2 separate regions of the Homo sapiens genome follow, and region 2 is linked to region 1. The links come from fine-mapping of genetic effects on gene expression. A gene starts in region 1. The other region holds a variant in brackets. All regions are shown on one strand. Distances are between the middles of the regions.

Evidence for each region. PIP is the estimated chance that this variant, and not a neighbour inherited with it, causes the effect.
Region 2: its variant is fine-mapped to the expression of GTF2IRD1 in tibial artery (GTEx, PIP 0.99).

Annotation. Positions count from the first base shown.
Region 1 is chr7:74,451,144-74,456,505 of GRCh38, reverse strand. It overlaps GTF2IRD1 (GTF2I repeat domain containing 1), which reads right to left and starts at 2,600. Exons shown (of 27, transcript NM_005685.4): 1 at 2,330-2,600. RefSeq lists silencers at 1,978-2,047, 2,550-2,899 and an enhancer at 3,785-4,304.
Region 2 is chr7:74,478,533-74,483,894 of GRCh38, reverse strand. The region is part of intron 1 of GTF2IRD1 (GTF2I repeat domain containing 1); the gene reads right to left. Among named protein-coding and RNA genes, the nearest start is that of GTF2IRD1, 27 kb to the right of the region's middle. RefSeq lists enhancers at 3,347-3,396, 3,407-3,456, 3,507-3,556, 4,817-5,362. The variant C/A (reference allele first, on the strand shown) is at 3,275.

The DNA.
Region 1 (5,362 bases):
TTCACCATGTTGGCCAGGCTGGTCTTGAACTCCTGACCTCGTGATCCACCCACCTCGGCCTCCCAAAGTGCTGGGATTACAGGCGTGAGCCACTGCGCCCGGCCAGACTACAGGATTTATGAGTCGGCTGAGGAAGCAGTGAGTGGTCAGAGACTAGACCCTGAATGAGAATCATCTGGGAGCTGCAGTCTATGGTTCCAAGGTCATGCTTAGGACGTGAATGTCCCAAGCCATCACCCACCATCCACAAGACCCCAGGTCCAACAACCAAGCTGTCACCAAACCGTGGATGGCCTGGCCTCTGGAGTCAAGCAGGCTGCAAAAACAGCTACCTCCAAGACCCTAGATTACAGCTGCCACTCAGACTATTGCCAAACACCAAGTGCTGACGACTACCACCTCATCAGAAGGCTAGCCGGGCTCCTGGGAGGCTGCCTTCAATGAACAGATAAAAATTATTTGTGATTAGCATACTGCAAATAAATGACCCTTCTCCCAACATCGAGAGAACAGTCCTTTTAAGTAGGTTTAGCGTGCCCCCTACAAAGCTGTCTTCAAGACCCAGTTTTACAACCATCGGCCTTAAGTTCTCGAACATTTTAAGAGTGCAGGCTCTGAGTGGCTGCGGAGTTTCAACCCTTCCTTCCTAGTTTCCTCTGTGGGGTCCTGTGGGACCCTCTGAGTTAGAACTGCCAATTTCTAGGTCACCCTCAGAACAGGCTGTGGAAGAACGAGGTGTGGACTTGAGCCTCCCACACCCCAGAGGCAGGATGGGGGTTCCGATACCCTGTCACCTTGGGGCCAAGCCTGTCCCTTGGTCCGCAGATGCCTGCTCAGAAGAGGTCAGAGTCTATCTCACACCCTCCTGGGCCCCAAATAGGGCGGTTCATGACGGCCACCTAACTACCTTATACCTAGCCCCTCCCTGCCAGCAGCCACCAGCCTCCAGCCACCTCCTCCTGCTTAGAATAAATAATCGATGCTGGTGCCCTTCCCCTCTGGAATGACACTGCTGAAATAAATGAGCTGCTTGGGGCACCTTCCAAGTCCCAAGGCCCCGGGCCAGTGCCAAGGAGTCAACAGTCCTGGCCACGGGGCAGCCAGACACACAGAGGCCGACCATGGCAGCGGCGCGCCAGGGTGGCTTCTAGACACCCCTCTCCTCTTCTAAGAGAAACCCCAGCAAATGCCCACTTCTCCAAAAACTGCGGGGGCCTGCCCTCCACTCCCACCCGCCAGGCCCAGGGCCATCCCGGGGTACCCCTTGGCACATTCTCCATCCAAGAGTCAGTGCTCCCCTCACAGGCCCTGCAGCGAGACCCCTATGTCCCAGCACCCTCGCTTCAGCTGGGATGGGGACACAGGAGACTCCCACCGCAGGACCTTGGTCCTGGGAGGTAGGGTCACTAGGCCAGACGCCAGAGCTCCAGCCCCCTCCAGCACTGCCAGGAGGGTGGAACGAACTCTCAGCGGCACAGCGGCCCCCTTCCCTGGGCCCACGCCAGGCGAGGCAGGGTCTCACTCCCTGGCTGCTGGCCAGGGGTGAGGAGCCCAGGAGAGGTGTCAAGCCCATCATGCCCAGGGTACTTAGGATGGGGCGGGTGGGTGTTCAGCACCCTGTGGCCCCTCCTCTGTCCTCTCCACCCATCTGCAGGAACTCAGAGACCACCCACAGACCGAGTATCCCCAACTTACTCCTCTGAACCCTTTGTGGTCCCCCCACTGCCACCTTCTGAGTCCCCTCCACCCGGGATTCAGCGGCCACCACCACACAGGCCAGCCCCCTCCCCGGGGCCGGGGCGGGGGGTCCACTACAGGAACCACCCTGCTGGGGCAATCCTGGCTGGACTGGACTCCGCCTGGGAGTTGGGGGCGCGGGCCAGGGGCTGGCCCAGACCGGGAGAAGGTGGAGGGGGGAAAGGCGGGGACCGCGGCCTTCCCAGCCCCCTCTGCTCCCACCCCGGCGCCCGCCACCGCGGGCAGCGCGACTGACCTCATTCGCCAACTGCAGCAGCCTGCGGGCGCCGGCCCGGGACGCCCCCCACCTCCAGAAGAGCCGGTGGCAAGGAGGGAGGGGGTGACAGCTCCCAGCTCCCGGCCCCTCCCGGGCAGGTGGGGGGCGGCCGTCCCTCCCCTCCCCCCGGGCCCGAATTATAATCCCAGTCACGTGCCTCCCCGGGCACCCAAAAGCCGGCCCCAGCTCCTGTAACACCTTGAGAGGGGGAGGGGCGGGGACCCCCCCCCCCGGAGGCGGAGGGGATCGGGGGCGGGGGTGGGGGAGAAGGGGAGAAGGGCCTCGGTGCCCGCCCCCCGCAAAAGTTTCTCCTACCTTGGAGGATCCCCAAGCGCTCCTGCCAGCGGCGCCCCGGCCCCGGCCCGCGGCCAGGACTCAGCCTCCTGCCGCTGCCTCCTTAATTAATCCGGGAGAATGGGGGAAGGAGAGGCAGAGGGAGGCGAGGACGGCGGCGCGGCGAGGGCGGGGAGGGAGGCGCGGGGAGGGGGCGCGGGGGGGGAATCGGCCGGCCGGGGGGCTGGCGCTCGGCGGCCCCCACCCCCGGCGCGGGCTGCGGCGGAGGGCGGGGCGGCGCGGGGAGAGGAGCGGAGAGCGGGAGCGCGGGGAGGCTCTTTGTTCTGTAATCCCAGTAAGATTGCCAGCCATTCGCCCCGGCCCTAATCCCAGCCCCGCGCAACACCACCCTCCATTGGCTGCCATTTACATACGGGATTAGCCCGCCCCGCGCCCCGCGCCCCTGCGCACCCCCCTTGCTACCCAGCGCCCCTGCGTCCCGGGGACCTGGGCACCGCGGTGGGGAGAGCGCGCCGCACCCCTCGGCCCCGGACCTGCGGGGAGGGGCGGTGGCGCCCTCGGTTCTCCCCCACCAGCGCCGGATTAGAAAAGCCTGGGCGCGCCCCCGTCTACCCCCACCGCTCCCCACCACCACTGGGAGAGCAGCCGGGCGCAGGGGGCTGAAGTTGGAGGGTCAAGGTCACCCAGCTGGAACGCGCGGAGGCCCTGAGTGTCCCGGCTGGTCACTCCCGCCTGGCCCGGGTTCTAGTCCTAAGGCTTGGGCCAGGTACCTCTTACTCTTACAGCCTTTGTCCCCCTCCCACCCCTGAGATGTGCAGGAAGGCAGTGACAGGCCGAAAGTCGCAGCAGAGCCAACTGGACTCTTGGTCCCATCTTGTCTGATGGGACCTCCCTCTGATAGGCTTTTACCCCTGTCCCCCCAACCAGCCCCCCCGCCCCCCGCCCGCCCCGCTCCCACCAACCACACACACACCACAGCAGCGCTCCTACTGAATCAGTGCGCACGCCTCCCATCCGGCCCCAAAGCCATAAATCCTAATTCAGCACAAGGAACACAGTCCTTCCCCCACGTGGTGCCCTGATCCCTGAACTAGACCTTGGCTAGACTGGGCATGGCAGGGAGGGAGGGACTCACCCCAGGCAGGCCCCAACCCCAGGGAGCTTCTGGCTTAGAAGGACAGCCAAACATAGATCGAGAATCTCCCAGGTCCTGGCAAAACCCACAAGGTCTCCCCACAGCCTCCTGGCCAAACTGCCTTTGCAAAGATTAGGACAGTGACAGAAGTTTAGCGTGGCTGACTCCATCTTGCTTCCAGCCTCACGCGCTGGCTGTCTTCACTCATTCCGGGGCATAGGCCAAGCTAACCGGGGGAGGAATTTAGTTTATAGTTCAACTTTGAAACAAGGATGATAATAGTTACTCCTTAAACCTAACCTGCTTTTTATACAAGAGACCAAAACCACCTTTGTAAAACTAACGAAAGGCCGTGAGATTAGGATTATGGGAGGGGCCTGGACGCTGCTAAAACCTACGCATCGTTTTTATAATCTGACTGCTCAGGAGTCATGTGGCGAGAGATCACAAGATTTGTGAGTTCCCCACTTCCTCCTATAGATAGCATCTCTATTGTGGAAACTGAGATTGGTCTTTGGAGATGTTTTTCAGACTTTCGCATTCGGGCAACCGACTGACTCACCTGGACCTGTGTGACTCATGACTCAGCCCATCCTGTGGCCCCCACTCAGAGACCGACTCAGTGCATAAGGACCGTTTGCCACACCCCTGTGATTTCATCTCCAACCAATCAGCAGTACCCATTCCCTGGGCCCTTGCCCACCAAATTATCCATAAAAACCCTAGCCTCTGAGTTCTTGGGGAGATTTATTTGAGTAATAACTCCAGTCCTACTGCTTGGCTAGCTCTGCATTAATAAGACGCTTTTGGCTGGGCTCAGTGGCTCATGCCTGTAATCCCAGCACTTTGGGAGGCGAAGGTGGGTGGATTGCTTGAGGTCAGGAGTTCAAGACCAGCATGGCCAACACAGCGAAACCTGGTCACTAAAAATACAAAAATTAGCCGGGTGTGGTGGTGCATGCCTGTAATCCCAGCTACTCAGAAGGCTGACGCATGAGAATCACTGGAACCCAGGAGGTGGAGGCTGCAGTGAGCCAAGATTCAGCCACTGCACTCCAGCCTGGGTGACAGAGTGAGACTGTGTTTCAAAAATTAGGCCAGGCACGGTGGCTCATGCCTGTAATCCTAACACTTTGGGAGGCCGAGGCAGGTGGATCACTTGAGGTCAGGCATTCAAGATCAGCCTGGCCAACATGGTGAAACCCTGTCTCTACTAAAAACACAAAAATTAGCCGGGCGTGGTGGCAGGCACCTGTGATCCCAGCTGCTTAGGAGGCTGAGGCATAAGAATCGCTTGAACCTGGGAGGCGGAGGTTGCAGTGAGCCAAGATCGCACCACTGCACTCCAGCCTGGGCGACAGAGTAAGACTGTCTAAAAAATTTTAAAAATTAAGAAACATAAAACTATTTCTCGCTGTAATACCATGGTCTCAGTGAATTCTTCCTGTGCAGCGGCAGGAACACCCGTCAGACAATTACACTGGGGTCTCTTCTGGACACACACCAGGAACTTGGTGAGGGTTAACTTTGGCTGACCAGGTCTCCTATAGGAAACCCACAAACCCATCAGACTGAGAGCTCCTCCCAGGCAGGCCACATCTGCAGTGCCCAGCACAAGGCAGGGCGCAGAGGGGCCCTCATGCCCACAGAGGATGTTGGGCCATGTCAGGGTTGGGAATGAAGTCACCAATGCTCCCTCCATCCTTCACCACCCTCCTGTTGTAAGGAGGTCTGGGACATCTCAAGGCACCCTCCTGTGTGGCCCTCTGAGACCCAGGTCGTCTCCCACCCTGCCTCTTTCTCTTTTTCTTTTCTTTTTTTTTTTTTGAGACGGAGCCTTGCCCTGTCACCCAAGCTGGAGTGCAATGGCATGATCTCGGCTCACTGCAACCTCCGCCTCCCAGTTTCAAGCGATTCTC
Region 2 (5,362 bases), 27 kb before region 1:
AATGAGCCAAGTTGGTAAATAAGATTTTTTTTTTTTTAAAGAGACAGAGTCTTGCTCTGCCACCTAGGCTGGAATGCAATGGCGTGATTATGGCTCACTGCACCCTCAAACTCCTGGACTCAAGCCATCTGCCGGCCTCAGCCTCCCGAGTAGCTCCCTGCTAATTTTTTTAAAAATGTTTTGTAAAGATGGAGTCTCGCTCTGTCACCCAGGCTGGAATGCAGTGGCACGATCATGGCTCACTGCAGCCTCAAATTCCTGGACTCCAGCCATCCGCCTGCCTCAGCCTCCCAAGTAGCTGGGGTTACAGGTGCATGCTGCCATGCCTGATTTTTAAAAATTTTTTTTGTAGAGACAGTCTTGTTCTGCCACCCAGCCTGGAGTGCAGTGCTGCAATCATAGCTCATTGCAGCCTCAAATTCCTGGGCTCAAGCGATTCTTTCCCTCAGCCTCGCAAGTAGCTGGAACTGCAGACACATGCCACCATGCCCAGCTAATTAAAAAAAAAATTTTTTTTTTTTTAGAGATGGGGCCTTGCTATGTTGCCCAGGCTGGGCTCAAATTCTTGGGCTCAAGCAATCCTGCCTCAGTCTCCCAAAGTGCTGGGATTACAGGAATGAGCCACTGTGACCGGCCTAAATAAGATCTTAAGAGCAAACTTCAAACACTTTGGAAAACAACCTCTTAGCACTGAGAAGTATATGCTTAGCATCACAGCACTGAGCTAGATGGGCCCCTCATCTAACCACCTGCATGTCCATCTAGGGAAACCACGGCCCAGAGGCGTCAGACTGAACCCCAGATCTCTGCACACCCAACCCAGGCTCACAACATAATACAACTTGCTCTCCTGTGGGCTTAACAGCTACGCTGATTGCAAATTCTTTCCTATTCACCACAAAACATCCTTTAGGGAAATAAACTTTATTTCTTTGACGATGGGCAGTAATTCAGAGGTATCCGAATTTCAGCGCAAGACCTGATCTGTTTCCACGGTACATGTGTTTCCACTGACTCCTCCTGGGTGCCCCGTCTATTGGAAAAGGCATCAGACGTATGAGCAAACCACAAAGACACGCAACACCACGGTGGAATCTCGCAAGGATGATGAAAGAATCTGAGGTCACATGGTAGAATTCCATTTATGTAAGGTTCAAAAGGAGGCCACATTCTGAAGCCAGGAGATGGAACGGCGGTTATCGTGGTGGGTCAGGGAGAGTGGTAGTAACTGGAAGGGGGTGAGAGGGGCTTGTCAATGCTGTTTCTTGATCTGGGTGCTGGTTACCTGGGTAGTTTAGTGTGTGAACAGTTATCAAGGTGTTTCTCTTACAACAAATAACTTTGTTCTCAATGAAAAGTGTGCATAAGGCCAGAAACAGTGGCTCGCACCCGTAATCCCAGCACTTTGGGAGGCTGAGGCAGGAGGACCACTTGAGCCCAGAAATTTGAGACCAGCCTGGACAACACAGAGAGACCCTGACTCTACAAAAAATTTAAAATTTAGCCATGTGTGGTGGCACATGCCTGTCGTCCCAGCTACTCGGGAGGCTAAGGCAGGAGGATCACTTGATCCCATGAGGTTGAGGCTGCAGTGAGCCGAGATTGCATCACTGCACTCCAGCCTGGGATACAGAAGGAGGCCCGTCTCAAAAAAAAAAAAAAAAAAAAAAAGTTTTAGGAGACATCAGGTATTGGGACACCCAGTCAGATGACAGAAAAAAACAAACAAACAAACAGCAAAACTGTCCCTTTTTAATCCTGCCCTGCAACTACAGATGGTACAGTTCCGCCTAGAGGCAGGGCTCCACCTCCAGCCTCCTCTGGCCCCCTCACCCCATGCTGTCACTAGGGCAGGGGCTGCAAGAGCCAGCTGGGAATGTCACTGGAGACAAAACCCCACACCTGTGGTCGAGCTCTTCCCAGCCTAGCAGCCATGAGTTTCACACTAAATCCTGGCCCACCCCACAGAAGGGCCCTGGGTGCACACAGTCCTCCCAGCCAAGCGATTTGGTGACGCTGTGACGTGTTTCAGGAAGTTCAATTTTAACTCTGTTCCCACCCTTCGCTCCAGGACTTATAATTCTATAAATTAATCCTGAGTTAATTATCCCAAATGCAAAGATTTACATGCAAAGATGTTTCCCCAAAGCTTTCACTTGGTACATCCACAGATACACACACCCACATATAAACAAGGAGTAGGTGCAGGCAACCTGATGCCCAGCAGAGGCTGATTCCAACACTGGACAGGATGACCTCAGGGGCATACACAGTGCAGCCCGGGATGCAAACTCCAGACCGTGCATCTCAGGGTGGGATCCATGCCTGACTTTGCTTCCCTCTACTTTTCTGTATTTTCTAAGTCACCTAAGGTAAGTATTACTTTTACAATTTGGAAAGAAACAACAGAAACCTCATCCTTTAAAAACAAAAGCAGGCTGGGCGTGGTGGCTCACTCCTGTAATCCCAACACTCTGGGAGCCAGAGAAGCAGGAGGATTGCCTGAGGCCAAGAGTTTGAGACCAGCCTGGGCAACATCGCAAGACCCCATCTCTAACAAAAAATTTAAAATATGAGCCGGGCGTGGTGGCACGCGCCTGTCGTCACAGCTACTCAGAAAGCTGAGGTGGGAGGATGGCTTGAGCCCAGGAGTTCAAGAATGCATCGAACTGGGATTGCGCCACTGCACTCCAGCCTGGGCGATAGAGCAAGACCTCATTTCTAAAAAAATTTTCCTTTTAAATAAAAAATAGAGCAAAACAAAAAGCAAAACCAACCATCCAACACAGCTGCTCCACCCCATGACAGGAAAGTTGGCCCCAGGCGGGGGCAAAGGGGCAGTCCAGGAAGTACAGGGATTCATGCTGCCTTCCAAGGGGAAGTGAGGGAGCCGCCTGCCTCTTCCCTGGAGGGGCTGGGGGAAGCCGATCTGAGGCCTGGCCATGCGAAGCCCCATCTGCCCTTCATCTAGGCTTCTGGAAGGTAGGGCGTCCTTCCTCCACGTGGAGGACGGGATTTAGGAAAAGGGGCTGTCTCCTCTCAGCTCGGGCTGTGCATCAGGTACTAGGAGCACTCAAAGAGAGCCCCCAAACTCAGGTTTCTCCATTTCTCTCCCGTCCCCCGGGGCGGGCACGGAGGGACTCCGCCGCCGCCGGCAGTATGCGGGGTCCAGGCCGCCCCATGCCTGCTCTACCAGGAGGGGAGGCCAGGATCCGCCGGGCAGACGGCTCCGCGGTTCAGGTTTCCACCCTTGTTATTTAAAGCCTGAGCCTGG[C/A]TCCTGGCAGGCGGGCAGGGGCGGCCGCCTGCCTGCGTGACCAGGATGAGAAATCGCAGTCCTGACGCGGGCCTGCGTGCCTATGGCAACTGGCGTTGTGGCCTTGGAGACTAATCTCCGGGCTGTCAGCCGGCGGGGACTCTCCAGCAGGGCCACGGCTCCCTGCAAAGGCCCTTGGCTGGGGGATCGGACAAGGCTCTCTTCCAGTGGAGGAGGGGGCGCTTGCCCCTGCACTGGGGCCCCTGGCCAGGCTCACAGATCCACATGTTCCCACGGCCACAGCCTCCGTCACACACACACGTGGGGACAATCACAGGGGTGGGGACACAGCCACCAGCTCACAGGCACCAATACTCTCTCACACTGTGTCCCACACCGCACAGGGCCCAACAGCAGGTGCTCCTGCCCTTGAAGGATTCCCAGGCTGGCAGGGAAAATGACCAAAAAAATAGACTACTGGGAAAAAAAAAAAAGATTAAAACACAGTGCAAGGATTTGAGCTGAGTGATGGTTACATGAGTATACAAGTCGGGGGAAAATTCATCACACGGGATGCTTAAGATTTATGTACTTGGGCTGGGTGCGATGGCTCACGACTGTAATCCCAGCACTTAGGGAGGCCGAGGCGGGCAGATCACTTGAGGTCAGGAGTTTGAGACCAGCCTGGCCAACATGGCAAAACCCCGTCTCTACTAAAAATACAAAAATTAGCTGGGCATGGTGGACGCGCCTATAAGCCACTCAGGAGGCTGAGACAGGAGAATTGTTTGAACCCAGGATGGGGACGTTGCAATGAGCCAAGACCACGCCACTCCAGCCTAGATGACAGAGCAGGACTCTGTCTCCAAAAAAAAAAAAAAAAAAAAAAGATTCATGTACTCATGTACTTTACTGGAAGTAAATTATGCTTCAGTGAAAGATAAAAATAAGTGGCATGGAAGAAGCCCAGGACGGCGGGTGAGGCAGTCAGGGTGGGGCTTCCTGGAGGAGGTGACACCTGAGCTGCCGGGACCCTCCCAGGGGAGTTGGCGTTTGCAGGTGAGGAGGGGAGACAGGCACTGTGCCCAGGCCCTGCTCTTCTACAAGGGAGGCGCCTTCCCTGCCCCACCGCAGCACCCACCTCCCCTAGAAATAAATGCTGAATAAATAAAGACCTGTTTGAAGGAGTGCCAAATTACTGGCTGCCCAGGAAACCCAACCGCCAGCCTGGGCCGCCCACGTGTCCTGGTCGGGCCTGAGCGGGGCCAGAGGCTGTGGGAGTGGGTGGGTGGGTGGGGAACAAATCCAGCTCTGCATGGCTGGAGTGTGCAGGGCAGGGCAGGAAGTGGTGGGCAGAGACCAGCGTGGCCATTGGGGTGAGGCCAAGGATCTCGGAAGGTCAGCCTCGCTGCAGGGTGTGGGGCAGGGGTGAGACGTGGGCAGTGAGGGGGATCCCAGGAAGCTACGGCGGAGGAACTGTCGGGTCATGCTTGGAGTTGGGGAGCCAGGAGTTGCCAAGTCTCTGCGACAGCCCAGGCCAGAGACAGCCAGGCATGAAGCAGACAGCAGCAGGGGATGGAGGACGGGGCAGAGCTTTGGGACCAGGAGCTGGCGACGGGGGGTCCCAAGGGAGGCACCTGGAATGACCACCAGGTTTCTGATCCCAGGAGTTTGAGACCAGCCTGGGCAACATAGTGAGACCCCATCTCTATAATTTTTTTTTTTTTAATTAGCCTAGTGTGATAGCATGTGCCTGTAGTCCCAGCTACTCCAGAGGCTGGGGTGGGAGGGTTGCTTGGGCCCAGGAGGCAGAGGTTGCAGTGAGCCATGATCACGCTACTGCACTCCAGCCTGGACAATACAGCAAGACCCTATCTCAAAAAAAAAGGTGGGGCTGGTGGCTCATGCCTATAATCCCAGCACTTTGGGAGGCTGAGGTGGGTGGTTCAGTTGAGGCCAGGAGTTTGAGACCAGCCTGGCCAACATGGTGAAACCCCATCTCTACTAAAAGCATAAAAATTAGTTGGGCGTGGTGGCATGTGCCTGTAATCCCAGCTACTCAGGAGGATGAGGTGGGAGGATCGCTTGAGCCCAAGAGTTCTAGGCTAC